2 separate regions of the Homo sapiens genome follow, and region 2 is linked to region 1. The links come from fine-mapping of genetic effects on gene expression. Tissue or cell type: sun-exposed skin. Region 1 holds a variant in brackets; the other region holds the start of a gene. All regions are shown on one strand. Distances are from middle to middle.

Region 1 (2,683 bases):
ACACATCATCTAACTTAGTAAATGTTTCTTGAGCAGTTGTATTGTAATTGCATTATGCCAGGCATTGAAGACACAAAAATAAGCAATAAATTCAGAAAAAGGACAACTACTTCCCAAAACATCTCCTTACATCATTGAATTTGATTTGTTTACTTATAACTGAGACAAAGACTAGCTTTGAGACTTCAGACAAATCCAGACCCCTCACTGTACCTCTGTCCTGTTCTCAAAAAACAATATTGGACTACGTGTTTTCTAAATTTCCTGTTTGACTCCTGGATTCTGAGAAAGTTTTGAAATAACTCAACAACTGGTTTTTGGCAATAAAATTGCTAAAATAATTTAAAATTTTTTACTTTAAACAATTTTAAAAATGTTAATAGCTTATTTAAAATTTTGGTAGAATTAGATAAGAATAATACGGAATTAAACTAAGCATAGCTGAATACTCTGAGAGGTATTTACAAATCAATACTGGAGCCTTATCTGAAATCCTACCAATTTATTTTTCATTGTAGGATGTAGTTTCAAGGTCCAAAAATGTATCTCTGGAGAATATTACATTTTGGAGCCTGCTAAAAGTTTTTCTATAAATATTCCACCAAATGAAAGAAAACAAGCCATCAGCAATCACTCTGACAGATTTATCCAGCGGCTCAGAATGCTGGACTCTAGTCCCAACCCTTGACAAGTTATGAAGGCAGCAGAGTCATCATTCAAATGGATTTAAGTGCCCATTGTGTGTAAAGACCTTCCTTACCTCTCAAGGCCAACAAGCTAAGATGGATAACTGGAGTCTTTTAGCCTTAAAGGGTGTTTGGCATAGCAAAATACAAACATAGAAAAGATAGCTTCACTCCAACTCCTGGCTGAGCTTATCCCAACAGTGTTAGTGAGGCTTTGGAGAACTAGAAGTAATCTGCAGGCTTAAATTCGTTTTTCAGTCTCTTCCCACTTACTATTCGTGTGACCATGGGAAGGCTTACTTAACCCCTTTGAGTCTCATGGAGTTGTTGAAAGAACGAAATGACATAGATTATATGACATGCTTAGCACAGTGCCTGGGATATAAAATGTGTTCCAAAAGTGTTAGCTGAAATTATTAATATTAAGTAAGAGCCAATATGAGAGAGAGCAATAATATTAAAGGTGGGAGTTTAGTTCACTGTGTATTTATTGTAGGGAATCAGAATATGCCACCCCAAAATATGCCATTGGCATAAGGATTATTTTGAGCTGAAGACACTTGAAAAACAGCAGATGCAGGAAGAGCTTTCTGACCTTCCCCTTTCTATCTAAAAGTAGGACATAAAATTTCCCATGAGAAAGGTGCCCTTCCTGTACCAGGAAGAGCAGAATAACTCTTAGTAATCAGATTCTT[A/T]TCAGCCCAGAGATGAAATCTACATAACAAACCTTAGGAAAACAACTTGTCTTTCCCCTTATATTTACCTTCCCACCCCTGAAAGCCTAAGCCCCTTTTCCTTGTCACTTCTCTACAACTTTATCATTCTTTGTTAACATGCTCTATAAGCTCCAAGTTCTAATCGCCCCTTTGAGAGACCAATCACCAGATTTCTCTTGAATGTATTCATGCTGCATGTGTGAATAAACTGTGTTTTTCTCTTATTCATCTGTCTTTTTTCAGTTTAATTTCCAGTATCCCAGCCATAGAAGCTAAGTGAGGAAAGGAAGAGTTTTTTTAATCTCCCCTACATATGTGTGTATGTGATAACTCTGTCTATTACTAGATGAGGGTTAGTGGGCATGGGAGTGTAATTAAGTACTCTATTTTTACTTTTTTTTTTCCTTTTCTTTCTGTGGCCCTTTGTATTAACTTTTTACTAATGAAATAGTAACCTTTACTCTCCTTCTTTCCACTAGGCACTTCCTTGCATTGCTGGTTTATCTAATTATGTTTGCTTAGAAGTTCTGGAGACTGAATCTTCAGACAATCCAGGTGCCTATGGAATTCTCCTTGACTAGGAGATTACTTTAAGGCTGCAGCTAATTTACAACCCTGTCAAACCCAAGATGGTGCCAGCCCATTCACCAGATGAGACAATAACTCAGGATAAGTCATTGGAACAAGTCACATAGTCCTGCACTGCATGCCCTCCATACCAAATTTCTCTTTCTTAAACCTTAGCATTTTGCCTGGGAATTTCCAAGTAGTTTTGTTAAGGCGTGTTAAAGCAAACTAAATAGGGCCTGAGAAGGACTCCATACTTGTATATTTGAGTCCTTGTGGATGAACTGTCACCTAGCTTAATAAGCAGACAAGACTGAAAACCTAATTTAGGAGTATGTGCCTGTAACAATAGCTGAGTCTTGGCCCATCCCAACAGCCATACTTCAATCACTCGTAGACTGCTAAGTGTTCAAATTGTGTTCAAATAAGGCAAACATCAACCTGTAACCAATCCAGCTGTTCTATACATCACTTCCGATTTTTATACATCACTTCCCTTTCTTTGTCTCTAAATTTGTTCCTACCATGAGGCATCCCTGGAGTCTCTCTAAACCTGCTGTGATTCTGGGGGCTGCCTGACTCATGAATTGTTCATTGCTCAATTAAACTCCTTTAAATTTAATTCAGCTGAAGTTTTTCTTTTAACAGACAGGAGACTGAACCATTTCCACACTGCTGGCTTCAGAAAATAAAGTCGCTTTCCTTCCACAGCAC
Region 2 (2,683 bases), 150 kb before region 1:
TTACTTCTGCTAAAGACAGGCGGCCTCTCTCCTAATAAACCACACACACACACACACACACACACACACACACACACACACACACACACACACAAGTTTTGACTTGAGCTTGAGACGCACACAGCGCCGAGGATCCTCGGGTTACTGGGGGCGACACTGCTGGCCAGGCTGACCAGCGCCCTCGGGCATCCCCAAACCCCTGGATGCAACCCGTTCCCCGCGCCAGGCTAGCTGCGGGCGGCGGGGTGGGCAGCGGCAGCCAAGGGACAAGCCAGCCCGGGGACAGCGCGGAGCCACTAGGGCCGGCGGGCAGGCGGGGGATCTGCGGGACAGAATTCTCAGAGCGGACGGTGGCAAAGGGCTAAACCCACCCACACTCCCCGGGGCGCGGGACGGGACTGAACTGCGGTCACTAACAATGCAACGAAGAGGACCTTCCCTTCCCTTCGCCACTCCCCGCGCCGCCAGGCCTGAAGATACACACACTCCGGCACACCCCACACACCCATCCACTCCGCCCCAGTCCGGATCCGGGTGGCGGAGGTGGGGCGGGGGGAAGGTGAGCGGTGCCTCGCCCCGGGGTACCTGCCGGCAGCGCAACCCAGCGGCGCCCCCGCCTCGGTGAGGACAGTCGGACGCGCGGGAGGAAGAAGGCGCTCCCGACCGCGGCACAGATGCTCACGGGCTTAGCACCTGGAGAGACCCGGGGCGGCGGCGGCGCGCGGTGGCAGCGCGAGAAGTCCCCGCCGCGACCCTCTCCCCGCCGCACAACTTTGCGCTGTCGGCGCCGCCCTAGCGCCTGCCCAGCTTCCTTACCCAAGTACTGCCGCAGGTCGAGCAGGAAGCGAGGGGGTCCCCCGCTGAGCTGATAGAGGAGGGAGCCCAGGCAGAAGACCAGCAGGGTGGCCATGCAGAAGCCGTAGTCCCGGAGGGAGAAGCGCAGGAAAGGCAGCAGGGGCACCCGACGCTTCCAGCTGCCCAGGCCCGGAGGGGCGCCCCCCATAGGGGCCCCATGGGGCCAGGGATCCGCGCCGCCGCCGGGATGCTGCTGCTTCTTCTTCATCGCCTGCTCCGCTGCCTCCCACAGCCTGCCCGTGCCAGGAAAAGGTCACCCATCCGCCGCGAGGAGGAGAGCCCGGCTGGCCGGCTGCACATGGGGAGGGCCGCGCGGAGGGCAGCCGGGTGGGGGCGGGGAGGGGCCGAAGTTGCCGGGCTCAGGAGACTTTCTTCGGCATGGTCCCCGCCGCCGCGGCCCGAGCGGCCGAGGTGTCCGGCCCCGGTTCGGGGCGCTGCCCGTGACGGGGCGCCGCGCCCGTCCGGCGCCCGCTAGCGTCCCCACGCCCCGCGCCCCGCCGCGCCTCGGGCTCGCTTGCGGCCGCCGGGGCTCGCCTCCAGCGCCAGCGTGGACCCCCCGGCTTTGTGTCTGTAGGTCTCGGCGTGTTTTGTCCCGGTTCAGGCTTCTCTAAAAAACGGCAGGGAGGAACAGGAGGCGGACACCATCCCCTCGCTCCACCTCCTTGACAGGGGTTTTCCTCCTTCTCCTCCCCTTTCTCCCTCCGGCGCTCCGCAGCACTCTCCTCCCTCTCCCCTCCCTCTCCGCTCGGGTCTCGGGATTTCGCTCGGGTGTCACGTTACTGCTTCTGCTGGGGGCGGAGGGGGGGAGGCGGCGATTATTCGCAACAAGGAAGAAAGTTTCTGGGTGTTTTCTTTTTTTTTCCTTCCCCCGTTCTTTACAATCTGGATGCGGTTCCTGCGCCACCAGCGACCTCTTGGGGGCCCCGCTGACTTCCCTCTTGTAAACAGTCACCGGCAGGAAGAAGCACGACTGACTTTACTATTTACATTTTTTTCAGTTCAGAAAGTTGATTCTCCTTATATACCCCGTGCGAGCTGCTTACCCAAGGCTGATAAAAGGTACTAGAATACAGGCTCAAGACTTTGCTGAAATGGGAAAAGAGCAAGCGGTGCGAGTTATGGTCAAACACGCCCCAGAGGGCCAGGCGCAGCGCCTGAACTCCCGGGTAGGGTAGCCGAAGAGGACGCTCTGTTCTTGCTTTTCCTGGTCCTACAACTGCTCCACCTCGCAGTGCCCAGAGAGGCAAGTGGGGGGTGCATAGCGGACTCTAGGAGGTCATTGCCCTGCAGACATGAAGGGGAAAGAGCCCAGTCCGCCTATACGCTGATTTCATTGCTGCCTCTCTTCCCTCCACGGGAAAGCCTCTGGACCTGAAAGAACCTCCTGGGGCAGAAAAGGCTCAATCCTAGACATAGATCCTCTGATGGGGTGGTTGATCCACGGAAGGGCTGCTCTGATCAGCCACACTTTAAGTAAGAATACTATATCACTATTTATAGAAGCTGTAGCACCTGAGGGCTGTGTGACTCACCCGAGGTCCCAAAGCTAGTAGTAGGAGTTGGGTTGGGAGTTGCACTCAAATCTATTTGACCCTCAGACCCACTATACTAACCACTGCACAGCAGTACTTCCCAGCCAGAGCCCTTTTCCTTCACGTCCCATAGGAGGATGAGATTTAATTCATTTAGTTCAGGCCACATTGAGAAATGGAAACCTCAGTTTCTGGTGCCTATCATTTCTGGCTCCCTACTCATTTGTATATTCCAGTAATGAACAATTGGATTTAAGAAGGAACCAGGAGCCAAGAACCTCTATGATTCTAAGACT

What was found. PIP is the estimated chance that this variant, and not a neighbour inherited with it, causes the effect.
Region 2: it holds the start of UST, and the variant in region 1 is fine-mapped to the expression of UST in sun-exposed skin (GTEx, PIP above 0.99). The same link has a PIP of 0.9 or more in unexposed skin.

What each region holds. Positions count from the first base shown.
Region 1 is chr6:148,597,123-148,599,805 of GRCh38, reverse strand. No RefSeq gene overlaps it. Among named protein-coding and RNA genes, the nearest start is that of UST, 150 kb to the left of the region's middle. RefSeq lists an enhancer at 1-6. The variant A/T (reference allele first, on the strand shown) is at 1,382.
Region 2 is chr6:148,745,811-148,748,493 of GRCh38, reverse strand. It overlaps UST (uronyl 2-sulfotransferase), which reads right to left and starts at 1,464. Exons shown (of 8, transcript NM_005715.3): 1 at 817-1,464. The coding sequence starts at 1,063. RefSeq lists enhancers at 1-327, 1,636-1,715, 1,776-1,835 and silencers at 506-675, 976-1,065.